Homo sapiens: one gene and its partners. The protein of the gene in region 3 interacts with the protein of the main gene of each other region in a pairwise test. Each region holds a gene or a part of one and is shown on either strand. Other genes may lie near its edges. The genes, in order: CNIH3, CLRN2, VSIR and SLC35B4.

Region 1 (7,035 bases), on a different chromosome or scaffold from region 3:
GAGAAGCCACATTCTAACTCCAAAGCCAGTGCTTTTTGCATAACAGTACTAAGCCTCAAGTGGATACCTTTGTTTACTCACTTTCATTCGTTATGCCAGACACTATTCTCAGTGCTGGGGAAAATGGTGAGTGTGCAGCCCCAATTCCTGCCTTGAGGAAGCATACAGCTAAGCTGTAACAACAAACCACGAGGATTCAGTGAGTGCCAGGCACGGGCCAGGACACTGCAGACGCAGAGGTGAATGAAACCAACATGGTCTCCAGTGTCAAGGAACAAGTAAATCATAAATAACATAGATGGAGAGAAATAAACCTGAGGAGGAACAGGCATGATCCAGAATAACCACGCAGGAGGGTGGTCCTACTACTTCAGGTCGGAAAAAAATCTTTCTACAGAGCAGACACTGTTCACACTGGGCTCACTAGCTAGTATTAGTATCTGCATTAGCTAGTCCCCTTCTAACACAACCCTCAAATATCACCTGGTCCACAAGGCAACCTGAGAAGTGGGGTGATGGGTGCCATGCGGTTCAAACAGGATAGAAGAAAGAGCACAGGCTCTGAAGCCAGATGTTGCTAATTATTAGCAGGGACCTGAGACACATTTCTTAACCTCTCCGAAGTCCTCAGGAGCCCCTCAGGGAGCTCAAACTATAAACTATCAACCCCGTCTTCCCCGCTGTTGTGTGGGTCTCTAGCCCTGAGCTCAGTTCAGACATGGCTCTGCATACACGAGTCCCCTTCCCTCCCTCCCACGGTGGCCTGCGCTGACGCTGCTGTGCTCTCCACCAGCTCCGGATCTGAGGGGCTGGCAGCTCCTAAGGTGGGAGAAACAGAGTCTTTTAAGCAGCCCCAAAGAGCACCAAGGGGCCAGATTCAACAAAGAATGTGGGTGCCCGTGGCGGCCACCCAGGGTCCCAGTGAGGCTGCAGGAACTGTTTCCAATTTTGTTTTAGAAACAGAGTGATTAACACATGTATCATGAAGGCAGGGCCAAACTGAAGTAATGAATTAGAGGACAAACAGTCAAACAGACTGTCTGGAACACACTCGGTTACAGAACAATCACACCCATCTAACCGAGAGGAGCTGCCAAGACCTCCCTACCCCACCCCCTCCCACCCCCGCAGCGGAGCACGCACAGCCGCTTCCCTCCCTGTGAACTCATATGGCTTCTTCCCTGCGACGCCTCGGCTCCAGCAGTTACTGCAACAAAACTGAAATGAGGGAAAGTCTCGCCTCTGTCTTCATCCACACTGAGGTGGATCCCAGGCTAAAGGGGCAGGAGCTAATGAAAACAATGGTCTCATTCTGTTGGCTTAGAGGAGAGACAGTGCTGTCTCTGGGGACAGGCCACTCAGCCCATGACTCTGCAGAAGGGGAAGTCTGTGGCTCCACAAAGAAAGCAGGGTTGAGCACACTGCAGGGAAAAAACCTAACCTCCAAGGTGGCAAGTCCCTAAGCCCACGGCGGCTTTGTCCACACTCTGTAGGTCTCCCAAGACAGAAACCCATCTGACAAGCCTTTGGTTGTTAAATAGTTCAGACTTGGAGTCAGAAAGACTTAGGTGAACCCACTGGGCACCGTAGAAATCTCCGGAGGCTTCAAAGACCGTCAGGCTCCCTGCAGGCTGGAGCAGTAAACATCCCAGAGCACCCCACAGAGTCTGCGGACACTGGGGATGTAAAGGGGAGGGAAGGCAGAACCAAGTAGAATGCTCCAGAGCCACCAAGGTGTGCACCAAGATTGTCCAGAGAGCTTGTTTAAAACGCAGAGCCCAGCCCTGGAAAGTTTGAATAGGTAGCTATAAGCCCAGGAATCTGCATTTTTAAAAAGCACACCTTCCTCCCTTCCTTACCCCACACTTTGATGAAGACTTTTCTAGAGGTTTTCTAAGATAGCCAGCAGTTAAGAGCTACTGGGCACGGTGGCTCACGCCTGTAATCCCAGCACTTTGGGAGGCTGAGGCGGGTAGATCACATGAGCCCAGGAGTTCAAGACCAGCCTGGGCAACATAGCAAAACCCTGTCTCTACAGAAAAATACAAAAATTAGCCGAGCATGGTGGTACATGCCTATAATTCCAGCTACTCAGGAGGCTTAGGCAGGAGGATCCCTTGAGCCTGGAGTTCAAGGTTGCAGCAAGCTATGATCCTGCCATTGTAGTCTAGCCTGGGAGACAGAGTGATACCCTCAAAAAAAGAAAAAGGAAAAAGGAGTTCAGTCTTTGAAATCGGACTCAAGATGTACTACTTACAGCTGTGACACTAATAGCTGGAATTCAGGAAAATTATCTAACTTCTCAGATTCAGTTCATTTTTCATATGTGAGTGAGGATAGTATTTATCTTATAAATTGAGCGATACGTACAAAGCTCTGAGCACAAAGCCTGGCTCATTTTTAAATGTCAGAACTTTGGGAGGCTGAGGCAGAAGGGTCACTTGGGCCCAAGAGTTCAAGACCTGCCTGGGCAACACAGTGAAACCCCATCTCTACAAAAAATTTTAAAATTAAAAAAAAAAAATATAGCCGGGCATGGTGACACACACCTGCAGTCCCAGCTACTCAGGTTAAGGTGGGAGAATCACTTGAGCCAAGTTCAAGGCTGCAGTGAGCAGCGATGGCACCACTGCACTCCAGCCTGGGCAAAACAGTGAGACCCCATCTTTAAATAAAAATTAAAAAATAATAAAAAATAAAAAATGCTGGACAAATGCAGCCACATTCTGGCCTGCCACAGCCCAATCCAAACCTAGGGGTGGCGTGCAGTCCAACATCCCGACCCCTCCTCCTCTTCACCTGGCTGCTGTCAACCATGCCCTTTTGGAGACATCACCGGGAGGTTTGGAGATCACCATGGCCCTGCCACAGGTAATGATGGAATCGCAAGTGACAGGTGAGAGTCCCCAGAGATGAGCCAAAGAGGAGCAGGAAGGAGGAGGAGACATTTGCGGAAAAGGCACTCTCTGTGGTGTCAAACCACAAGACAGTCTGTTTATAGCTATCTGCTTAGTTAGGATGTTCTGAGCGGAGAGGTGAAAAGAAGGGACACTCCTGAAACAGGACTGCAAAGTCAGCAGGTTTTTCTTAATTGGAATGGTGTTATGTAATATTGGGAAAACTGTAAATGAAGCATTTAGCGACACAAAATGCCACTTTATGAACCGTGACAGCCACTGTGGGGCTGGGGTGGGGAGTTTGGGGCCTCTGTTATGGTTCCCAAGAATCCTTGGGGCAAGGGACAGTGAGGATGAGCCTGAGCCCCTGTGGCCACAGGCAACCTGCTGGGCTGAGCTGCAAAGTCGTGAGAGGCAGGAAGCCCTATAGGGAAGAAGGAGTAGCCAACTGCACTTCACCAGTTATCTCCAAAGGGATGTTGAGAGGGTGTTTTCACTGCGTGGCCCTAAGGATGTGCCGATCAGCAGGCAAGGCCTCCTGCAGGATCTCCTGCCCCCTTACTTGTTTATACAGAAGCCCTTGCTCCTGAGCCAGAGTCAGACAGCTGGGACTACACCTGAATGGCCATGACTCCCACCCTCGCACGCCATCTCCCAAAGGACGCCTCCCAGAGGCCAGCCTGAAATTCTCTTCCTTTTGCTGCAGGAGTCAAAACCACCAGGAGGGGCAGATACTCACCAGTAAAGGTAGTAGAAGAAGGAGAGGAGATAGAAGGCCAGCTTACACCAGGCCTCCTTCTGACAGTAACTCAAAGTGTCGGCATTCATGACCACCGGTGGGTCGTAGGCTAGTTCTGAGCTATCTGCTGGACAGTGGAAATACCTGCAGGGAGAGAGGACATCATTGTCTCTGAGGTCCTGGTACTTCTGGCGTAACCTGGGCAAACCCTTCCGATGCAGGGCTTCTGTCGAGCAATCCCTGCCAAGCAATTGCCTGCCTTCTGCCCAAATCACAGTTGAAGCACCGCTGAAGAGTGGCTCAGCCACTATCTTCCAGCAGGTAGTAAATCCCCAAATACTCCAATCCACTGGCATCATGGCAATTTCACCCATATACAAAGCTGCTCCAACAGAAGGGGAAATGTGTCACCTGGCGTTGCCTAGGAGTCTGAGGAAGAGCCGCCTCTCAGGACAAGTGCAGGCAGAGGTAAAGGGCTATACCACCACTGCTGGGATGCCACCATACCTCCATTCTACCCTAAAACTACTTTACACAGACCCTTATTGAAAATCCTGAATACTTCGGGACATCCTATTCTCACTTGAGCGCAGAGCAGTTTACAGGTGCTTTCCTTCTTGATAGTGGGACCTAGAACTCAAAAAGAACATCAGCCATCTGTCGGGAGACAGCGTGCCCTGGACGGCAGCTGGGTGAGTGAAAGAACGTAGGTGGGAAAGAGGAGGAGGGGGAGCAGCTAACGCGAACTGTGTGTACTTCAAAATACTACGTTCCCAAGGCTCACCTGGCCACAGCCCCTGAGGAGGGGAGCCGTCAGGCTTGGTGAGACCTGGGGCAGGAGTCTGAGCCTCCTGAGTCCCTTGGGAAGTGGTCGCTGCCCCCAGGACACTGCCCCCAGGGACCTGGCCACAGCCTCCTGCCGGAGCCCAAGAACAAAGTACAGCTGGAATCTCTCAGTGAGTTCCTTTTTCAGTCATTCTGGTAAAGCCACCCAGAGGCCAGGAGTGCAAATAAATGGCTTCCCTGGGCTCTGGGACAGACAGTGGTTCTCAATGGTGGTAAAGGGCCCAGGGAGAGGGCTCCGACCGGGAGATTAATCACACTGGCTTTGAAGAACATCCTGCAATGTAGCAACTCGCAGATCCGGAATCTCAGCTCCCTCCTCCTTCCCCTTCAGAGAATTGCACTGACGTTATCTGTCACTGACACTGTGCTGAAAAGAAATCACAAGCCAGATTCGATGACAACTGCCAGCTCACAGCCCTCCAGGCCACTCATCTCTCCTCTTCCTGGGAGCCAATCTCAAAAGCTATTTGCTGTCACTGTGGTTTTATTCCCAGGTGACCTCATTAAGTGGAGGCAGAAGGGCAGGGTGGCCATGTGGCTCCGTGGAAACAGCAAAGGCCCTGCCAGTCACCAGTCACCACATTGACTTTCCTTGGGTCAGTCATTAACCCATCTGAGCCTCAACTTTCTCATCGGTGAAATGGGGATGGAATTGCCCACTGCAAAGGGCTGTTGTGACCATTATGTGAGGCGATGTATGCAAATAACCTGGGAAGAACAGGTACTGAGTCAACAGCAGACAGTTCTATTTCCTTTAAGCAAACTAAGAGCCAGAGCAGGAGGGGACTTTCTCTGTATGTGAAATGTCACTGGTCTGGACCTGTTGGGAAGGAGGGGGAGTAAAAAGGGGGATAAAGGGTGTACAAGGGCTCTGGTTTTTAAAGGACTCCTCCCCTCCTCATTCTTTTTTTTCTTTCATGTTCTGAGAACTTACTAATTGCCAGGAACTAGACTAGATCCTGTCAGGGATTCAAAAAAAAGGTAAGACAAAGTCCCTATTGGCAAGGAGATTGCAGCCCCTCCCTTCCTCCATAGAGATCAACTTTCCTAGTCTACGGACACTGGCTGCCTCTCCTTTTCCTCCCTTTTGGACAAGCGCTAGCCCCACGAAGCAGTGCCCTGATCGATGTTTTGTCCATTAATCACATTTCTGATACCCTGCCTTGACAGCCCCCTACTTGAAGGACCTTGGGACGAACTCCTTTCCTGGAGGAGAAGAGCCAGCCCCTGGGGCAGTGTGTCAGGTGGCAGGGACTCAGACTGGAATTCGTACAGAGGTGGGGTGTAACCTCAGCCCTGCCACGTCCGAGCTGAGCAACACAGGTTAAGTTGACTTAACCTTTGTGAGTCTCTGTGTCCCCATGTATCAAACACAGAAAATGAAACCCAGCTCACTTGGTTGTTGTGAATCCTGGATCTTCTATTTGACTTCTCTCTAATTCAGATGAGAGCAGATTGCCTTTACTTAAAGTGAGGCTTCTCGATGTAACCGAATCTTTTTCCTTCCTCCCTAAATCTGAGATTTCTTCTACCCTGCTGGCCCTGGTCAATGGCACCATCGACCTCCCGGCCACGCAGCCTAGAGGCTTTCTCTCCCTCACCTGCACCCAATTATGGGCCAAGGCTTATCCAGTTCACCTCCACAGCTTCTCTTGTTCTCTCACCATTCTGACTCCCACCACCTGGGTCAAGGCTCTCTCACCTCTCCACCTGGAGTTCCCACCATAACCCCCTCATTGGATTTCATCCTCAATATTTCACCCTCTAACCCATCCTTTACACTGCTTCCCAGGCCACCTTCCTAAAAATCAGATCAGGTAATGCCACTGTCTTCTTCTAAAGCTTCTGATCATTTTTCATTACCTAGAGAATAAATTAATTCCACCTTCCCCATCAAATCATTTCAGGCCCTCCATACCATACTCTCAGCTGCCTGCCAACCCTGTCTCTTCTTATTTCCCTCCAAGAACCCTACATCCAACCTCACTGAGCAACTACTGTTTCCCAAACACAACAAGTGTTCTCTTAACTCTGGGCCTTTGCACATGCTGGGCCCTCGCCCTGGAATGTGCTTTTCCAATGTCACTCTTGAGTCTAATTTAAGTGCTTCTTTCTCTATGCTCCTACCAGTATTCCTCATATGTCTGTTAAGAACATATTTCCCTCCACCACTAGGATGTACGTTCCTTAAGGGTAAAGGTTTTGCTTTACACTTAACGTGAAATCCCTCACAATGCCTGGCGTGTACTATGTATCCCGTATGTTTTCTAAATGAAGGAGTGCATGTCTTAGGTGTGGCTAAATTCAAGCCAGATTTTATGGTACAATAAAAATGATAAAACACTTTGGGGTCCAATGCTCTGGCAGCAAAGGGTCAAGGGCAGGCAACTTATCTGCGCAAATACCTTCTCTACTATTTAGATATTCCCCCACCTCTGCCTCCTGTGTCCATATGGTGACTCTATTTTACAAAAAGCCAAAAATCACATGATCTGACACATGGTCTTAGCAGGGAATAGAATCTATGAAATTATAACTGTCCCAGAAAATCCA
Region 2 (7,303 bases), on a different chromosome or scaffold from region 3:
CTGTTTGTGAACGAGACCCAATAAACCTCCCCATCCCAGAGTTTGCAAAGCATTTTCACTTACGTCCCCATCTACACTGATCTGCGACTGTGGGGATTATTTTTTTTTTTTTCTACAGATGGATAGTGAATGGCAGAAAGAGACCCCAGGAGAAACAGACTCCTGGTTGTGGGAGGCTCTGATATACCCCGTAGCTGCCTCGAGGTTACACTGTGCTAGAATTAAAAGCTGTAAATCTAAAGGAGACTAGACTGGCACTATCAGTGTCCCTGAGCTGTACTGGGGTAAAGCCAGCCAAGCACAGGAGGAACCTGGCCCCAGGCTCCTCGTGAATGCTTTGAAAGAGAATCACATCCAAGGTACTGCGAATGGATGTTTACAGACCCTCCTCTGAGACAACCCCAGGGCAGCAGGAAACAAAACCTTCTCAAATACGCTCCTACTCAGGGACAAGAATAAAATGTCCTTTATGCTTCTCACAGGGTTCTGATGCTTTCCAGACCAGACCACGTTAGATGAACCCAGGGGAATGTTTCCCATTGGTGTCCTTCTAAGAAGGAAGAAGGAGGAAGGCAAGAAGTACTTACTGAGTTCCTCCAAGGCTCAAACAAAATATGCATTTGTTTGCAGCTTCCTACTCGAAGCAGTTTACATTTCTGTGAGCTGGGAATGGCAGGGGTCTGGTCATTAGGTTAATGCTGGCATGTGACTGCTGTTTAATCTTCTCACCCCATTCAAGTTTCAACGATTTACCTGTTGGGGTTCAGAAACCAACACCCCTAAAATATGAAGCTTTGTGAAGAAGTCTCAAGGTCTCTCTGGCCTCCCCTCTCCCTCGTGTCTCTCCATTCTTTGTCTGTCTCATAAGCACAGGATGAGGTTGTTCTCTGACATTCCCTTACCTGCCTACATCCAGACCTACCAAAGAAAAAGACCTCTGGTCCCTTCCCTGAGTGTTCATTAATTGTACCCATATCACAGGAAGAAAGACTAAAGTCTGTTAACACAGCTGGACAGACTTTTGTCACAAACCAATGTCTGCTCTGTGGGCTCAACAGACTTTGTCCCAGCTCACTGTATGTTCTTTAAGCCCATTGAATTTCCCTAAAAATAATTTACTAGTCCCCTAAAATCATCCACACTTCCCCATCTCTCTTTCCCCTAAGATGAAGAGGATACAACCACCTGTACCCCATTGAGATAGCGGACAATCACTCTGTGATTTTTCCCCTATGCATGCTAATAAATGTGTAAGCCATTTTCCCTATTAATCTGCCTTTTGTCAGTAGATTGTTTAGAGAACCTTCAGAGTGCAAAGGGGAAGTTTTCTTGACCCCTAAAGTCCCGAAGACATCCTTTATAGCAAAGCATCTAGTTCAGAATCGAGTAGTCCATGTAGTTGTCATGGTTAGCTTTTAGCATTTCTTTTTTTTATTTGTTTATGTGTGTGTGTTTTCAAGTTTTATGTTATAATTTTGATGGAGCTATTTGTTCAATATCCAGGGTCTAATCTAATTGCTAGGTAAATATAAATATGCCCAGACATATTGATCTTGAATATACATAACAAATGTAAATTTTTGTGTGTTTAAATGATGACAATTTGTATTATATTTGTCAACGGTTCCAGCTTTTTGTCCTTATAAATTTAATACGACATTTACCTTGGCCAGATTTCTATAAACTACTACAATACTGAAATATAGAAATCAAGGAATGAATACAATTCTGTATCACCCTACATTGGCATGGTATTGATTAATTACGGTTTTGTGCAGACACTTTTCACCAGTGATCTCATCGATTCAAAAGGCTTGCAGAATATTGCCTGTTTTGTTTTTTCCTTTCCAGAAGCCCGTTCCTAAGTCCAGCTTGGATTCCTGTTTGTGCAGACTGCTCTGCTTACATCCTGGGCAGCTCTGATGCTACACTGAATGCCAGCCAAAGTCGGTGCCCGCTCACGTTCACAGAGAACAGGCAAGTGCCTTGCTTGAGGTCTCCCCACCAGTAAACTTTCCAGTAGGGGTTTCAGCCAGGGTAGTCTGATTCCAGAACCCAAGCACAGTGCCCCTTTGCATTTTCTCAGACTATGAAGCTTTTACAAAAGTAGATGTGGAAAGGGTCATCATGCTTCCCAAAGGTTCAGTTCTGCAGGCAGCCTCCACCCACTTGTTGTGGTCATGTGGCATGGGTCTGGAGTCCGGCTCTACTGTTTCCTGGCTGGGTGACCTCAGGTAAGTTATGTAACCTCTCCAAGCCTCAGTGTACTCCTCTGGAAAATGGGAACATTAACAATTCCTTCTGTATAACTTTGTTGTAAGGCTTTAAGGAGACAAGTGGCGTGAGGTGCTTACAATGTCTGACACGTGTAAACTCTCAATATTTTAATAGTCATAATTAATAGAGGTAAACTGCAAAAATGCACAAATCCTTATTTCTAATGTTTCTATACATCTCTACAGAAAAAGAAAAGGAAGCAAGGAAGGAAGGAAAGATCTTTTTGATGTGGATCCAGAACCCTTGGCTCACTGTGGACTTTGACATTATGCCTGACGTTGAGGCAGCAGCCAAATTCCACAATGAGACATAAGCACTCTTACACATTAACAAAAATGAGTGCCTAGAATCAGCTTTCATGCTCCCAATATACTCACTCGTGAATTGGGATTGGCGGCCCCCAAGCCCACACTGCCGCACTTTACACCCTCGGAAGAGCCCGTAGTAAATGTCCCCAATGAACTTGACCAGCTCTCTGTCTGTGGCGTTGACCAGATCCACTCCAGTCTGACAAAGGATTTTCCCACTCAGCCAGTGGGGCACTACCAGGGCAACGATGATCAGGATGAAGGAGGAGAAGCTGAGTAAAGACGCCAGCCCATACCACGCCTTTTTGAACCATCCAGGCATGCTAGTGGGTGCAGGTCATCCCCAAGGTCTCCGAGCAGCAGCGAGGGTCATTGACATCTTTCAGATACTCGGCAATGCTCTGCTCCAAGGTCAGCTCTTCCAAACACTCTGTTTCAAGGTTGTAGGTCCATCCTCTCGTCCTCCTTCAGCGCAAGCTTGCACAGTCCATGCTTCCTACAACCACATCCAGAAGCCTCTACAGAGACAATCTTCACCTGACTATGTAGCGGAGTGTGTTACTGAAGGAAGTAACCTTATATCTCCTCCTAGACTAATGTTTCAGCAGACTGTTTAACTGTTCCTCGTTTCAAGTATTTAAATAGCCCTGGTGTGGACCTCGTAATGATAAAGGAGTTAGTAATAAGCAAAATCAGGTAGCTCTGAAGATTAAGAGACGCAAACCAATCTCAAAAAATGCATGTGTTAGAAGGAAAACAAAAACAGAATGATTAGCACTTGAATATTGCCAACAATGCGCAGTATCAAATGTCGATCTCGCTGATGCATGGGTGCCCTGGCATTTCTTTCTCTGAAATGTCACTGCTGTCAGAATCTTTAGGACTGTTATTAATACCATCAAATGACCCCGGTTCTTGGGGCTTTAATATTGAAATGTGTAAATAGGGCCTTATGAATTTCTCACTGTGTGAATCTGCTGGGGGTAAACTGTGACTAGAATTACTTTGTGGCTGTTGGGGTAGCCTGGAATCCAACACTTAACATTGCTCTCACCCGTCCCTCCTTCTACGTTATCTGAAATGGGAGAGAAAAGTGTTTTTCTAGTGTATTAGCAAATAGTAGCCACACTGCTGGGGTATTCATCTCTTCTAATAGTGGAAGATCTAGGCTTTCCTTTTAATCTGTAGATACTAGGAATGAAATATTCTTTCCTTTCTATCTTATACTGTGGACTTTGACATTTTGACTTTTACCTTATTCCTGAATATCAACTTAACATCATGTGAGACTGGCAACAGTCACTCTATCCATATCTCTGGGGAGCAAAGTTGGGCAAAAGTGGAGCAGTAAAATTTCTTAGTTGGTCACAGAAGCCTGAAGGGGGGTTCAGGAAGTTGCACTGTTAACCAATAGGGGTCCCAGGAATCTCACTTGGAGAGTGTCAAGGAAGCAGAGGGACACATTAATGGAAATGTCAGTTTCCTTCCTCGCAACTGGGGCTCACTTCAGTGGCCACTCCACAATGAAAATAAAAATGAGAATTTCTGAGCCTGGGCAATGTAGTGAGACCTTATCTCTACAAAAAATAAAAAAAAAAAATAGTTGGGCCTGATGGCGTGTATTTGTAGTCCCAGCTACTGGAGGCTGAGGCTGGAAGACTGCTCCAGCCCAGGAGCTCAAGGCTGTAGTGAGCTATGATCATGCCACTCTGAGTAACAGAGTGAGATCCTGTCTCTTACTATATATACAGATGAGTGGCACTTTACCATGTACAAAATGCAAAATGCTTTGACCATATGCTTGCTCACCTCTGATGCTCCAGCAACCCTTTAAGGTAAACAGGAGATGCACGATTTCAGCCATTTCTCTCATGAAAAACTGGATGTCAGTGCTGGGGCTGAAATTCAGGTCTTTGAATTACAACAGCTCATCTTCATCCCAGTGACTTTGAAACAGCAAATGTTTTTCTGGTAAAAAATAACAGAATACATATAAAAGGCTCAGAAGACTGCTTGGCACATTAAGTGATCAATAATGTTAGTTCACGTTCTTATTTTAACATTAAGCATGCTTTGACAAGTCAGGACTTGCGTAAATATCATTGAGTCATATTTCTGCCGTCAGTGAGGGACCTGTGTCAACTTTTGGTGTTTTGAGGGTTAAGCAATTGTTTTCAGAAAAACTCTAAGGGAAACACTTGATTCCCAACAAGCCTTTGTCTTGCTGAACAAAGGTGTGGTTAAGTGGAACTCTAGCTATTGAAGACCTGTGTTCAAATTCCCACTCTTCCAGACAAGTGTCTGTGACTCTCATGCCTCAGCTTTCTAATCTGCATAGGATTATCGTGTGGAGTAAAGTGAAATAGCACAGGCAGATCACTTAGCGCAGTGCCTTGGATATAAGGAGCACTAAATAGATGGTGCTCTCCTCTCCATCCAGCCTCCTAGCAGTTCTATTTCTGATAATGAAGCTTCTGACAACAAAATGTGCTGCTGGCTGCATCCTCTTCTCTAGTGACATATTTCTGCATGCTTTACCTGGCACAAGTTTACTGAACAAACATCTGTGTCTGCTGTGTACAAGGTTATATGTGGATGGGAAGTGACACAAAGATGTATGTAATACAGGGTTCTGCTATCAAGAAGGTTATGAGAGTGTTAGAGCTCTGGTTCTCTATCAGTGATGAATTTGCCCCTAGGAGACAACTGTTAAATCTGGAGATATTTTTGATTCTTATGAGTGAGGGGTAGGGGTTTGCTATTGATTTCTAGTATATGCAGGCCAGGGATGCTGTAAATATCCTACAGTACCCAGGGCAGCACCTGTCACAAATAATTATCTGGCCCAAAATGTCAGTAGTGCTGTAGATGAGAGGCTCTGTGTTAAAGATACAGGCCATGGGCAGAAATAACTAATATACAAGGGAGAAAATGCCAGGATCTGTGTCTGGCGATGGGTGGCATATAGTAAAAGGGCCATTTGGATTAATGGGTATAAATTTACGGTTAGATAGAAGAAATAAGACCTAGTGTGGTTTGTCTCGTCTCGGCGGTGGACTTTCAGCTCCTTGAGCGGAGCGACCTCTTCTGTTTTTTTGGCAGGTGGGAATACTTAAATCTCTATTTTGATGCACAATTAAAAATAAAAAATTGCCAAAACAGTGGTCGAAAATTGTACTATACTATATTTTACATGCTTACACTTCACAAATTAATGCTCGTAAAACACCCGCTCTCCACCCTCCTCGCCCTTAGCCCGGCTCGCTGCACGCCCCGAGGCCCAGCACTTGCTGGCGGGTGGGAGGAGGGGCTTCGCCGATGTCCCCGTCCCAGGGGCAGGGCCTGGCCGAAGTTACAGTCCCTCCGGGTGGCGGGGCGCCCCGAGCGTGGCAGCGCGCTAGGCGGCAGCAGCGGGCGCGGAGCGGGGCGCGGCCGCCGCGCGTTCCCTCTTGGCGGGGTTGGCCGGCCGGGGCGGGGCGCGGCGCTCCGGCTCGAGGCATTCGGAGCTGCGGGAGCCGGGCTGGCAGGAGCAGGATGGCGGCGGCGGCGGCTGCAGGCGAGGCGCGCCGGGTGCTGGTGTACGGCGGCAGGGGCGCTCTGGGTTCTCGATGCGTGCAGGCTTTTCGGGCCCGCAACTGGGTAATGCTGCGGGCTGGGGCTGCTGGGTCTCCGCGGGGGTGGCCGGGGGCTTTCGTGTGGAACCCGGCGGGGGGCAGTCTAGAGGAAGGTGGGGGCCCCTGTGCACCCCCTGACTCGTGTTGCTTGCACGTGCGCGCACAGGTCTACGCGTCTATTCCTGTTTCCGAGTGCGTGCGCACGCCAGTCCCAGGGCGCTGGGCCTTTGCTGTGCAAGGAGGTGCTCCGTGGGCCTCCGCCAGACCCAAAAAGTCCGGCGTGACTCGGGAGAGAATTCCAAAGGGGAGGAACGGGAGCAGGGGTGAGAGGACGGAGAGAGAGTGTAGAAGGAAGGCTCTAGAATGAGACAGCCCAGTCCCGGTTACTAGTCATGAGACCGCGTATTGATTACCTAACGCCGTAGGACCTCGGTTTCCCCATTTGTACAACGGAGATTCTGACAGTGAGAGTTGGGACGATTAGATGAGATAATTGGTGTCGTTGCACATAAATTACCTGACGCCTGGTAAAAACTGTTTAAATGCTGTCTATTAATGTTACTATTACTACCCACCCCTGTTCTTTTAGCCCCATTGGATCTGACAGTTTGAAGGCTCAGCACGGAAAAACGCTGACGGCTTCTTTGCTCTGCAAAGACTATTTCAACTACTTTGCATAGTCAGGTGTCAATTTCCAGGAGGCGGCAAGTCGGAGCAGAGCTGATACATGGCCAAAGACCCTTGACCTCAGCCGCTCAGCAGGCCTCAGCAATTTCCCGGTGGAGACACTGCCAGCGGCAGCGTTCTGGGAGCTTAGTTAGCAGCAGCAGCACAGCAGCCTGGGCAAGAGTTCCCCTGGGACCAGAAAAAGGCTTTCAGGATTTTCTTTAAAAAAAAACTATCTAATTTTTATAGATGAAGGGGGCAAAAGTACAGTTTAGTTACATGGATATGTTGTGTAGTGGTGAAGTCTGGGCTTTTAGTGTAACCATCACCCAAATAGTGTACATTTACCAAGGTTTTCTTGTTGCTCAGAATCTGGTACAGGAATATGCTTCTGAAGAATTCAGTCACACCACTCCCTTCCTGCCACCCATCTGCTCA
Region 3 (7,000 bases):
AAAGTGCTGAGCCAAAGAGTATGTGCATTTTCTTTTAGGCTATTGCTAAATTGCCCTCCAAAAAGGTGTACACGAAGCTTCGCTGTCCCAACAGCATGAGGAGGTTTGATTTATTTCAGGGCATCTGCTGACTGCAGGAGTTTAGCTGGGAACAGACGTGCCCTCAGAACCACAACCAACATAAACGCATTTCCTTCCCAATTTTAGCCTTTCCCAGGGCCAAAAGATGGGCTGGGATACCTTGTCACAGTGTCAACTTCGCCCCAAAGAGCTCTGAGAGGTAAATGGCTGTGGTCTAAATGTTGCCTTTCCGCTATTTGTTTGGGAATAAAGGCTGTTTTTGTTTTGCTCTACAATCCGACAGCGTAAACAAGCTTTCAGGAGGTTTGTTCATACTGCAAATGAGAACAAACTGTTTTCAGTCACTTTAGAAGTACCCACTGGTACAGGAACAGTTGCTATGCTAATTACAAAGCAAGTTCCGCTCCACATTACAGCAGGTTCCCTGCAGATCTTAGCAAGGCTGCATTTTGACGTGGAATATTGAAAGTAAAGACATTCTATAACCCAGACACCTCAGTATTTCAAAACCCCCATCAAAGGACCTTATTGTGGGCAATATTTGAGAAGCCAGTTGCAAAGCACTCTCTTCTAGTGATCAAAGCAGGTCTCCTCTGGACGGCTAGTAAGCAACATTTTGTGAGCTTTGCCAGGTGCTCATTGATACCTGTTCCCTATCTGCCTTTGGAGGGTGAGCTTGGCCAGATATCCCTGCCTAACTTCTATCCCCAGGTAGAGATTTCCCCTATGTGGACCCTCTATCAGATCAGGACTTAATTTCACTTTGAGAGCCTGAGGCTTCCTTACGATCTGGGCTGAGTTGAGGCTGGGGCAGAGGGGCGCAGAGGTTTGGGGACAAGTCTGTGGATCCAGCTGCTTTCTGAAGCCGTAGGCATCTCTGCAGAGCTCAGCCTCGCCACAGTTCCCCACCCCTTCCCCCAAGCGTGGCCAGTGCCTGGGCTGGCACTCACAGGGGAAGGCAGGCATACTCACTCACCATCCAGAGCCAGGCTTATCCTGGGAAGGTGATCAGGCGCTGGCAGAGGTAGCTGCCGACACCGCACTAAGGAGTGTGCCAGGCCCTGACACAGCAGGGTGGGATGGGAGGGGCCTGGCCTGCTCAGGCGGCCTTTGTCCAGGGCCTGCCTGGTAGCCCACGGGGATATATGGAGGAGGGAGTTCGGCTGCTGAGGGTTGGGCTGCCTGGTTTCCCAGGGAGGAAGCTGGGTGAAAGCAGACAGCACATTCTGCTGCGCTGGGGGGTGGGAAGAAGTTCAAAGGGAGATGAGCTGCCTAGACCCCTTCTCTGAGCTCACTGAGAAACCACAGCCCCTCAGCAATGCAGGAGCTCCTTGGGCACCAACTTCTCTAGTCTCATTCCCCTACCTCAGGTTAACTTGTACTTTCATGTTATTTCATAGTCAAGCTACACTCTTACTTCCCAAGGATAACATTAAGAGGCTGGCACTGGGGCTGGGCATAGTGGCTCAATCCTGTAATCCCAGCACTTTGGGGAGCCAAGGCGGGTAGATCACTTGAGCCCAGGAGTTCGAGACCAGCCTGACCAACATGGCTCTGACCAAAATGCATGTTCTAATTTTGCTCTTGGCCTGTTTGTTGGTTTGAAAAAAGGGTAGCTGAGTAAAAAGTCACTGTAGCCTTTGAGTTGGGTTTTGTTGGGTCCGTGGTTTAGCTGATCCCCATTCCGGCTTAGGTCCTCGTGCATGTCCTCCTGGATGCCTTTGTATCTCCAGGGCCTAGCAGGGGCTGGTCCCCACTGGATGTCTGACACATACAGGGTATAGAGGGGTGTGGAAGCCAAGACCTCTTCTCAGAAGAGGGAGGTGCCCTTGCATTTTGTCTCCAAGCTGCTGGGTATTCTCACCCAACCTCTCAGCGCCAGGCACCCTTAGGGCAGTGCCCTCTTACCCTGTAGGGCACCTCTCTGGCAAGCACCGGGGGGCTAACTGCTACCCACTGCACTGCCCCAAGCTGGGAAGAAGGTGAGTATGCAGAGCTAAGCAGGCCTGCAGCCAGATCCCAGCTATGCTACCCTGGGCTATGTGAGCTTGGGCAAGTTAGCATACATCTCTAGGCCTCTCTTTCCATGGATACAGAGAAGATGGTGATGCCTACTTCATAGAGTTCTTATAAGAATTCCCTGAGGCTAGGCATGGTGGCTCACACCTGTAATCCCAGCACTTTGGAGGTCAAGGTGGGAAGATCAATTGAGCCCAGGAGTTCAAGACCAGCCTGGGCAACATAGCGAGAGTGCATCTCTACCAAAAGTGATTTTTTTGATTTTTTGGGACAGAGTCTCGCTCTGTCACCCAGGCTGGAGTGCAGTGGTGTGATCTCGGCTCACTGCAACTTCTGCCTCCCAGGTTCAAGCAGCTCTCATGTCTCAGCCTCCCGAGTAGCTGGGATTACAGATGCCTGCCACCATGCCAGGCAAATTTTGGGTTGTTTTTTTTTTGAGATGGAGTCTTGCTCTATCAGCAGGCTGGAGTGCAGTGGCGCGATCTCGGCTCACTGTAACCTCTGACTCCCGGGTTCAAGCGATTCTCTTGCCTCAGCCTCTTGAGTAGCTGGGACTACAGGCGTGCACCACCATGCCTGGCTAATTTTTGTGTTTTTAGTAGAGATGGGGTTTCACCCTGTTGGCCAGGCTGGTCTCGAACTCCTGGCCTCAAGCGATCTGCCTGCCTTGACCTCCTAAAGTGCTGGGATTACAGGCGTGAGCCACCGCACCTAACCCCAAAAATAATTTTTAAAAATTCACCAGACATGGTGATGCGTGCCTGTAGTCCCAGCTACTTGGGAGAATGAAGCAGGAAGATCACTTGCATCTGGAAGTTTGAGGCTTCAGTGAGCTGTGATTGCACCACTGCATTCCAGCCTGAGTGACAGAGAGAGAGTCTTTCTCAAAAAAAAAAAAAATTCCTGAGGCCAGGCGTGGTGACTCACACCTGTAATCCCAGCACTTTGGGAGGCCGAGGCAGTTAGATCATTTGTCAGTAGTTTGAGACCAGCCTGGCCAACATGGTGAAACCCCAGCTCCACTAAAAATACAAAAATTAGCCAGGCATTGTGGTGCACGCCTGTAATCTCATCCTAGCTACTCGGGAGGCTGAGGCAGAAGAATCGCTTGAATCCGGGAGGCGGAGGTTGCAGTGAGCCCAGATCGCGCCACTGCACTCCAGCCTGGGTAACAGAGTGAAACCGTGTTTCAGAAAATATACACACACACACACACACACACACACATATACACACACACACACATATATATACACACACACACATATACACACACACATATATACACACACACATATATACACACACACATATATACACACACACATATATATACACACACATATATATACACACACACATATATATACACACACACATACATATATATACACACACACATATATACACACACACACATATATACACACACACATATATATACACACACACATATATATACACACACATATACACACACACATACATACATATATGTGTGTATATATATGTATATACATATATATGTGTGTATATATATGTATATACATATATATGTGTGTATATATATGTATATACATATATATGTGTGTATATATGTGTATATATATGTATATACATATATATGTATGTATATATATGTATATACATATATATGTATGTATATATGTGTATATATATGTATATACACACACATATATATATATATATATCCCTGAGATAATAATACTTAAAAAGACTTAGTCCAGTGCCCAGCACAGTGGGAACTCAGGAAAGGTAGTTCTGTTCCCCTTCCTGAACCTCTTCCTCCTCCCTCCCCTGCAACAGAGAACATCTGAAGAACATAGAAACACAGAACACAGAAATCTGAAGTAGTTTAATTCTAGGCCAAGAGGACCCCCAGCCTTCCCAAGCCATAGGGGGCTGGTGGGCAGGGCGGCACTTAGCTGCCTGGGGCACCCAGTACCTGTCATGAGGCACTTGCCCTGGCCAAAGGTCACTGCCAAGGCACAGCCACTCCAGAGAGTCAAGAGGAGCAGAGACTCCAGAGCAGATGGAAGGAGAGTGGGCTTCTGGGGATTGCACCAAGGAGGAAGCAGAAGGGATGTGCAGCAGCAGAAAAGGAGGAGGACCGGGGGGTTCTGAGGGCTTGGGGTGATGAGGCCAGAGTTCCAAACAGGGTCTGGGTGCAGGATGAGGACAGAAGAAAACAGAGAACCCAAAAGGGGCAAGAGGTTGGTCCCTTACTTTCACTATCCTGGGAGGAGGATGGGTACACCACACAGTTGGATGGTGCATCTTTGCCTGTGGGAACAAACAGAAGGGCCATTAGGTGGGTGTCAGGCCCAGGAGGCCAGGGAGGCTTGTCCAGGCCAGTGTCCCCCTCCTGCCCCAGGTTCTCACGCTAGTGCCTACTCGGCAGTGTTGGCCCAGTGGCAGCCTGCACACGTGTGCACCCACACACACCCTGGCATGTTCTCACCCTGCCCATTTTCATGCCACTCCCAGGGGCATGTGAATACCCGCTGGTGCCCACACCTCTATCCGAACCATGGGCCCTTGCACTCTCACCTGAACAGACAGACACACACACGCATATATTCTCCAACAGCCATTCAGCCATCCACTGAGTCATGCCCCAGGGCACCAATCAGTCCCACTGATGCCTATACCCACAGCAGCCATGATGTCATCATGAGCAGTCACACTCCCAGCCCAGGTACCTACAGCCTCACACATTAAAAAGTCTCACTGTCACAAATGGAGCCAGGTACACCCTCCCTCTCCATCACTCCAGCTAACTACAAACCCACACTCCACACACCCTTGACCACCCCATCTCACCCACACACTCCCTGGAGTGCCAGTGTTACCCATGCAGCCTCACACTCTGCCCAGCACAGTGTCATGAATGGTCACACCATCAGACAGGCAGCCCTCCACACACGCCAGGCTGTCACGTGCAGGATGCCCTCACCTGTCTGCACCTGCAGCTCCATGGCACCATGGACCCTGTGCTCCGAGTGGTGGTGCCTGATCTCCACCACCAGGCAGCAGTAGAGGCCGCTATCCAGCAGGGTCAGGTTGCGCATGGTGATGGAGAAGTTGCCATGGTGGTCGGAGGCCGACTCCAGCCCGTGGCGCTGAGCCAGGTCGTGGCTGGTGTTGGCAGCCTGGTGGCCTCCATGGTGCAGGTGAAGGTCCTGGAACGTGAGGTTGCGGATGGGCCGGCGCTCTGAGCAGGTCTGCACCTCGCCCCTCGAGCTGCGGTACCACGTCTTGTAGAAGGTCACATCGTGCCCTTTGTCCACAGGGCCCAAGAGCCTGCAGGTGAGGGTGACGTTCTGCCCCTCGGGACAGACATACAGGGAATACGGCGTGGCGACCTTGAAGGCTGCCACCGGACCTGCTCAGAGAGAGGAGAGCCCTGTCACCTGACTGATCCAGTGCTACTCCTGGCAACCCCAGAGCGGGGAAGAACCTTAGCCTCTGCTACTTCCCAGCCACAGGCCAGGGGCATGTCAGCTGACCTCCCTAAGACTGCCTTCTGCATTTGTTCACAAACCCCACTCCATCCTAGGCTGTTGTAGGGGGAGTCACAGAAGCTTCCCCAACTAGGGGTGCTCCTGGATGCTGGACAGGGCAGGGAGAGACTTGGAGGGCAGTGATGCAGTCGGGTGTGTCCCTCTTCCCAGTAGAGTATATGCAAAACCTGTTGGGTGGGAGGCAGGTTGGGGAGCAGGAAGGCTGTTTCGAACAGCAGCTCCTTGTCCTTGGCCGCTCTGTAGGGGCCATCAACACCTCTGCCCCTTCCTACTCCTAGGACTGAACATGCCTTCCCATCCTTGCCAGGGAGCACTAAGAGAGCACCTGCGTGTGCAAGGCCTGGGCCAGGTGCTGCATCTCACCTGCATGCTGAATGCATGGCCTCCCCTTGAGCAGACGAGGCCTGCATTCCCGACAGCAGAACCCCATGGCAAAGGCAATCCAATGCCAGCCCTCAGGGCACTTGGAGGAGGGAGGAAACAGCCTTCTGGGGACAGTCAGGGACTTCCTGAAGGAGGGAGAGTCTTTGGACTTGGTGCATAGATAGGATTTCAGCCAGTAGAAAGGGTGTCCTAGGCAAGATAGTGTGAAAATGGGAAAACCCAGTGTCTGAGGGACCGGGACAGAGAGTATATGAAAGGTCATCTCATCCATGCACGTCCTTCCAGCCAAACTTAGAAAACTGTCTAGTTCTGTTTGGTTTTTTTCACCAAGCAAATGAAGCAATTCCCTGGTCCACTTTGCCTTATCCCAATCCTCCAGCATTTAATTGGGTTGACCCTCAAAACCATGAGCTTTTGAAAACAGAATATTGGATAGAGGCCGCGTTTCTATCTAACTGTATGAGCCTCAGTTTCCTCCTCTGTGCAGTGAGAAAACTATTGGCTACAATGCAGGGTTGCAAAAGGACTAGATGAGGGAAAGATGAGAACACAAGATGTGAGCTCTAATGCCCTCTGCAGACATCTGAGGGATAGCTATAATTATTATGCGTTGGTGTTATTTTTATTTATTTATTTGTTTTTGAGACGGAGTCTCCCTCTGTTGCCCAGGCTGACCTTGAACTCCTGGCTTCAAGCAATTCTCCTGCCTTGGCCTCTCAAAGTCTTGGGATTACAAGTGTGACCCACTACGCCCGGCCAGTGGTATTTTTATTTTAAATGGCATGTCAGGCTGTTGTGGGTCTAGCAGAGAGGGAAGGAGGGTTAGAACTATGTACAGAATCCAAACTGATACATCCTTTTCATTGCCCCAGCCAGGGGCATTGCCCAGAACCAATATAATGCCACATCCTCCTTCAGATGCCCCTTCCCTGCCCTTAGAGCCCAGGACCCTCGGCGGCAGGCTGGGACCC
Region 4 (7,035 bases), on a different chromosome or scaffold from region 3:
TTTCTGCACAAAAGGATTTGCTAAATATGCAGACACAATTTAATTTGCTTTGATTGATCGTGATCATCTCATGTAGTGAACTGTGACTTGGAACCCACCAGAGCATCCCATCAAAACTGCTTCAGTCTGTGGGTCTCAAAGCCATCTACCAATAATACACCTTCAACTACATCAGAGAATATTAATAGTTCACTTGAAGTAACATTTTACAACTTAGGAATTTTCACGTTCCCAGGTTCAGGAAGTTGCTTACATTATAAAACAAAGCCTCCTTGGAGTGTTTCCCAAATCGTTTGTAGAGAGTCTCTTGGAATATCCCCATCCTTGCTGACATCAGAAGAGCAAAAGTCAATGCCCCAATACCTAAAAAACAAACATCAGGTGACAAGATGTCTGCATTTGTTCATTTCCAGATGTTTTTCTTGAAGAACATTATTGTTTAAAGTCCTGCAAATATTATGAACTAATTGTAGAACATGTACAAAACTGTAAAAAGAAATAAAAATACATTATTACCATCTAGTCCTTTACAGCTTTCTACATCTTCTTATATATTCATTTATGTAAATTTTTTTACACTAAGACAGGATCAGATTGCATATGGAATTTTATATCTTGCTTTTTTCATGAGCTTTTGCCTGGAATTTTGCTTCAAATCAGTCATTAAAATTTTTTAAATAGAATGCTTTTAATGACTATGATATGGATGTAGCACACTTAAATGTATGAGGATGGTTATTTCCAATTATTTCATTATTAAAATCAATGTACATCCTTGTATACAAATCTTTAAACAAATGTTGATATATTTTAGGATAAACCCTCATAAGTGGAATTACTGAGTCAAAGGCTGTGGACATTTAAAAAATACAATACACAATATTTTTCCATAAATGCTGTGTCCATTTATACCCAAACTATTTTTATTATATAAAAATAGTTGTTTTACTGTACCCTCAGCAGCAATGAGATAACCATTTATCATCTTGCCAGTATGATAGGCCAACATAAAAAGGTATTGCATGGGTTTCATTTGCATTTCTCTGATTACTAGACTAGTGAGGCTGAACCTAAAATTGTTGGGTGCTACTATTTCCCCCATGAACTATATGTTCATATCCTTTGCAAATTTTTCTTCTGGAGTATTTTTCTAATAGCACATAAGGATCTTTCTATGTTACAAACAGCAACAAGGGATAAAGTCTCAAAGCCAAGAAGCAAGGAGAACACAGTTCTTTCACTGCTATTTCTCTTCCAATTGGTCAGTCTCAATCCGTTATTGTTGTCATTGAAAGCCCTTGGAACGAGTCTCAGCTCCATATCAAAAAATGTGAGAACAAAGCTCTACAGGAGCTGCCTATTTAATTCCACAGAGATCCTTGTATTTTTAAAAATTCCCCAGGAGATTCTGATAATCAGTCAGGTTTGGGAACACTGCCATATGGAACAGCTAACCTCTGAAGAAAATAAGTCTTTAGAAATGAGTCCCTCGGAAATTTAAAGAGTCAATTGCTCTAACGTGCCCTCTTGCAGAAGCTTCAACTTGGCAGACAGATCGTGAAGAGACGGATGACATTCAAAGGATGTGATGTGCAAGTAGACACACACTTTTCTTTCTACACCAGTGGCAACCAAGAAAAACATGGATCCATGTTGTAGAACATACTGCCATGAATGTGGGGGCATTTTCTTTTTTTCATTTCTTGAACGCTAAGGCTCAGAGAAATATGATCCCAGGTGCCTCTCTTCCATGGCATAATTTGTTTAGCTGAAGCTTCTTGCCAAGAAACATTTCTCTTAGGAGAAAACTCAGCAAACACAACTGCAGAGGCAATTAGCTTTATTATAATTATTGTACTTGCCTAGTAACCACCACACAAATGCCTGGAATCCATCATTCTCACTCAAGCTGGACTGGGAAGTCTAGGAAATAAGAAAATAAACTAGGTACAGAGAGCAGAACTACGTGCAAGGTGCCGACATACAAGGGAAACATTTATGTTACCCATTTCCCTCCCCTCTTCTCTTTCAAAATCTTTGTATTACATAAAAATTTGAATTGTATTAATTGCCTGGTAACTGGGCCCCAATAGCAAGTAGTGAACATAAAATAATTTGTGAGCTTCTTACCACCTGCTTTGCTGACATAAAAGTGCAAATAAATATCCCCACAGACACCAGGGCAATGGAGGTATATTTGAATATACTGTATCTGCAAAAAAGAAAAAAAAGAAGAAAAACACCTTAGGAAAGCACAGATATGAATTTCCCAGTGATATTTACAGTCAGATGGTGCATGAAAGTACAAATCACTAAAGTATGACAGACAGGATTACTTTCCAGCAGAGTCCACAGAAGTATGCATATGAATGAATCAGGATACTGACTAGTTTCTAACCAACACTTTTCCTTAGTACTGTTTAGTCTGTCTCCAACAATTTGCTGACCAATCGATTATTTCATCAGGAGACAAAAACAGAAATAGACCAGATGTGATGTTGCATTCTGCTCTCAAGAGTCCAGATGAAAGGCTGACCCAGTCCTTACTAGGATCTGTTGCTTTTCCTGTCTTTAGGGGGACCAAATCTGTGTCCTAAGACACACTGTGCGAGTGGAAAAACAGGCTATCAGGTGCAAGCAGCAGGATTCAATGCTCAGAAAATAATCCAATCATCCATTCTCTGGGGGAGGCTTGTTTTTTTTAAATCTCTGAATGACTTAACATTGTTTTAAAATGTTGGCATAGTTGGATAAGGGGGAGGATATTCAGATTATAGAACTATGGGCTGTAATAACAGTAGCATTTCACATTAGCTAGTATCATTAGCACCCTCTCAGATTTTTGGTGATCAAGCAAAAGGCCTCAGGCAAGGATTAAAAGAAATTAAGAAGATGAACCATCCCAGGTTTTCTACTCAAATACATAGTATTGTCCTGGTCACAGTACCTCATAAAAGGCCAGCAGAACTAGCTAATGGGCAGAGAAAGGGACTAAAAGGGCCAAGAGGACCACGCTAGAGAGCGGTTGGGGAGGAAGCAGGTACGAGCGGAGGTACGGTAAAAAATAATGAACCTCTTCAGTCTGCAAAGATCACGCTGAAGAGGTTTACAACTGAGGCCAAAAATAATAATAAAGGCATGGGTAAGGTGAATATAAATTTGATATTCAAATCCTGGAATGAGGAGCACACTATGAACTTGAGGGGCTTCTACCCAAGATAAAAGGAGATAAGAAGTTACTAATTTACTCTGTTGGAAAGTTAACTTATGGAAATTCCTGCTCAATGGGAAAGAGATACACACAGAAAAGAGAGTCAAAAGGCTTAGATAGATGCAAGATGACACACTCAGAACAAGTTCTTAAGGGCAACAGATGCTTGAGAAAGACCCGTAACATTTTGGGGCACTATCAGGAGAATACAATTTCTCTTATAACATGTTCTTTTGTATCCTTGTCATGAGCCAGAATCAAAGGTTGGGAAAGAGCACAGGCCTGTCCCAAGGCGAATTCCACACTATAAGAAGCATGATGATCACTTCAAATGTAATAAACCTGACCATCATATGTATATATATATATATGTTTAAATGCAGAGAACCAAGAAGAAAGAAATCAACTACAGTAGTACTTTTCAGGGAATTCATAAGCCTCAGGAGATAAACGGTCCATGATATGAAGCCTAGTAGGACAGGACAATTGTTCTTTTTATGACACAGCCCTTAATACTTAAAAACTCTAGGTTCTCACATTCTGAATTTACAGCTACTTTCCAAGCATGTATAGAGAGCTTGGGGCTGGATATCAAATACATTGAAACGCTGCCATCAACTTGTATAATTTTGGTCTTAACAGTGAACTTTCCCTGATAAATTTCCCAAACTGTATGTGTTGTCTCTTGCTAACATCCTTCCTCCTTAGGAGTGAGGGGTGAACCTCAGAATGAAGGTGACAGACAAAAACTTTGAAAAAGCATCCCAGGTACTTCTGGTATTTCCTGCTCCTGTCCCCCCTGCTCCTGTCCCAAAGAGAGCCATTGGTGATGGTCACAAAGAACAGTCCTGAACCTTTCATTCCATCTTCTTGGCTATTTGGGCCTTTTTAGGAATTTCCTTTTTAATATGTACAACCATTCCTTAGTTTGCTATGCTGTACTGATAAGCATCTTCTAGGGCAGAAGTATCCCATGGAATTTCTGAGATGTTAGAAATGTTCCACATCTGGGCTCTCCAACGTGGTCACTACCAGCTCTGTGAGTCTACTGAGCACTGAAAATGTGACTAGGAGTTTGAGACCAGCGGGGACAACATGGCGAAACCCAATCTCTACCAAAAATACAAAAAAGTTAGCCGGGCATGGTGGCACATGCCTTTGGTCCCAGCTACTTGGGAGGCTGAGGTGGGAGGATCACTTGAACCTGGGAGGTGGAGGCTGCAGTGAGCCGAGATCACACCACTGTATTCCAACCAGGATGACAGAGTGAGACCTCGTCTCCAAAAAAAAGAAAAAAAAATGTACGTGACTAATGAAACTGAGACACTAAATATTTAATTTTCTTTAATTTTGAAAAATGTAAATAGTCACACGTGGCTAGTGGTGACCATACTGCACAGTGAACCTCTCTATCATCTTTGTAAGTTGGCTTCGCAGGTTAGTATGACACTAAAATTCAGTGATGCCAAGAGCTATTCAGTTCGACACAGAGACACCACAGGTGTGGCCTCTTACCTGATCAGCTGCTTCAGGACATTGCATGATTGGGCCTCACTGGTAAAGAACTAAGAAAAGAGGTAGATGGCCAGAAGCAAACTTATCACTATTTTGGGACAAGGAATCCAGGTGACTAGCTTATGGACAGGGGCTCAGGGTATCATTTCCATACACAAAATACAGAAGTGTATTGTTTACCTTTTCTTCAAAATGATAATTCCTAGAATCATGTTGGCAATTAGAGAACCCTGCAAAAGGAGACAACAGTAACAGAGAGGTTTAGTGCACTAGGAAAAAAACAACGTAATTCGAGAGAATAGGAACATGGGCAAGGGGAAAAAACATGGAATGAAGGAAGCTAGGATGAATAATTAGTAAAGATTTAGTTGTTCTTATGATGGCAAAAGTATAAACCATAAAAATCTACTATGATGGCCGGGCGCGGTGGCTCACGCCCGTAATCCCAGCACTTTGAGAAGCCGAGGTGGGCGGATCACCTGAGGTCAGGAGCTTGAGACCAGCCCGGCCAACATGGTGAAACTCTGTCTCTACTAAAAAATACGAAACTTAGCTGGGCGTGGTGGCAGTTGCCTGTAATTCCAGCTACTTGGGAGGCTGAGGCAGGAGAATCCCTTGAACCCGGGAAGTGGAGGTTGCAGTGAGCCAAGATCGCGCCATTGCACCTCCAGCCTGGGCAACAAGAGCGAAACTCCGTCTCCAAAAATATACGTATATATATATATATTTAAAAAACCTTTTAAAGATGACAATGAGAATAAAAAGGATCAATTCTCAATATAGTCATTATCAGCCCTCCTTATAGGCATGTTTTGCATCCCGTGAATACTGTATTTTCATATTTGTTTGAAAAAAATTTGCATATTTGTGGACCCACGTGGTTTAAACCCATGTTGTTCAAGGGTCAACTGTAATTGCTCAGTGCTGAAGCCAGGGCTAGCACGAATAAATGATATCACAGACTTATTTTTGTCAAAATTTCCATCACCTAATTTATAAGAGCTTTTAATAAGTTTCTCCCCATTACCTGCACCTTCTACCCCCGACCAGTTTTTTCTTCCCTCAGACGGAGTTTTGCTCTTGTTGCCCAGGCTGGAGTGCAATGTTGCGATCTTGGCTCACCACAACCTCTGCCTCCCAGGTTCAAGCGATTCTCCTGCCTCAGCCTCCCGAGTAGCTGGGATTACAGGCGTGTGCCACCACGCCCAGCTAATTTTGTATTTTTAGTAGAGATGGGGTTTCCCATGTTGATCAGGCTGGTCTCGAACTCCCAACCTCAGGTGATCCACCCACCTCAGCCTCCCAAAGTGCTGGGATTACAGGCCTGAACCACTGTGCACAGCCCCTGACCAGTTTTAATGGAAAAAGTCATGCAAGGATCTCTCTGTTCTCTAAAAAGGTGACAATCAATCAACAGGTGTTTATTGAAAGTCCACTATGTTTTCAATGCTTTGAAGGTCACCTTATTATAATTGCTTTGGAAACTCCCTTCAGGAACAGTACAATCTCACAAAAATCTCAGACCACATGGAAATGTTATCACCACAATTATCAGCCTTTTTTGCCTGGAGTGCTTTGGGAGAAACCCTACCTTCATCAAGAATTTCCCTTTATTATCTCAAGTCTCTGCTTAAAAAAAAAAAAAAAAATCAGAAAAGACAAGTATCTCTTTCATGTTCTAGAAGTAAATGTACTTTTATGAAAGAAGAAGAGATAAGAAATAAGTTAAATAACATTAATAGCATGTTTGAATATAAAATCAAAGAGATGAGGGAAAATGAAGGTAAAATCTGTTTCCTAGGGAAAATTTAATTTTCTTTTTATTAATCACTCATTAGACCTCAGAAGAATAAAAGTAAACCATCCACTTTGAGATTTCTCTTTTTGCCTTCTCAGATGAAAGCCACCCTTGCTCACGCATTCACAAACCTATTCTTCTACCCAAGACCACTTACTACAAGAACCTTCTAGTTCTGCCATATATTCAATCGATCTACTTAACTATACTTTTCAGAGGAACATATACACGTGATCCGGCAGCACTTACGGATCTAAATATCATATGCAGGGGCATGGCAATGTTGAGATTCAGGGCATAGTTGTTCACCACGCTCACGGTGAAGAACATGGTCACCATTATGGCATAGTACCTGAAATGCAGACAGAACAGCTCATCAAACAGAATCTAGGATTTCAAGAAAATCAAGTATAGGAAATATATATTTTTGGCTAAAAAGGCATTTTGCCTGTTTCCTCTGCGTTGCAAGATTGCATCACTATTATGCCATGTCAACTACTAAGTACATATC

The links.
Region 1: the proteins of VSIR (region 3) and CNIH3 interact in binary tests that used the Homo sapiens proteins (3 or more experiments, as listed by UniProt).
Region 2: the proteins of VSIR (region 3) and CLRN2 interact in binary tests that used the Homo sapiens proteins (3 or more experiments, as listed by UniProt).
Region 4: the proteins of VSIR (region 3) and SLC35B4 interact in binary tests that used the Homo sapiens proteins (3 or more experiments, as listed by UniProt).

Annotation. Positions count from the first base shown.
Region 1 is NC_000001.11:224,731,308-224,738,342, reverse strand, and holds part of CNIH3 (protein cornichon homolog 3), read right to left. Parts: intron 3,781-7,035; coding exon 3,637-3,780; intron 1-3,636. UniProt on the Homo sapiens protein: Regulates the trafficking and gating properties of AMPA-selective glutamate receptors (AMPARs).
Region 2 is NC_000004.12:17,510,871-17,518,173, reverse strand, and holds the start of CLRN2 (clarin-2), read right to left. Parts: upstream 3,010-7,303; 5' UTR 2,908-3,009; coding exon 2,655-2,907; intron 1-2,654. Other genes in the region: QDPR (dihydropteridine reductase), read left to right, coding at 6,120-6,224. UniProt on the Homo sapiens protein: Plays a key role to hearing function. Required for normal organization and maintenance of the stereocilia bundle and for mechano-electrical transduction.
Region 3 is NC_000010.11:71,756,521-71,763,520, forward strand, and holds part of VSIR (V-type immunoglobulin domain-containing suppressor of T-cell activation precursor), read right to left. Parts: intron 5,507-7,000; coding exon 5,078-5,506; intron 4,405-5,077; coding exon 4,348-4,404; intron 1-4,347.
Region 4 is NC_000007.14:134,299,899-134,306,933, forward strand, and holds part of SLC35B4 (nucleotide sugar transporter SLC35B4), read right to left. Parts: intron 6,877-7,035; coding exon 6,774-6,876; intron 4,957-6,773; coding exon 4,907-4,956; intron 2,213-4,906; coding exon 2,131-2,212; intron 1,924-2,130; coding exon 1,863-1,923; intron 364-1,862; coding exon 254-363; intron 1-253. UniProt on the Homo sapiens protein: Antiporter that transports nucleotide sugars across the endoplasmic reticulum (ER) membrane in exchange for another nucleotide sugar.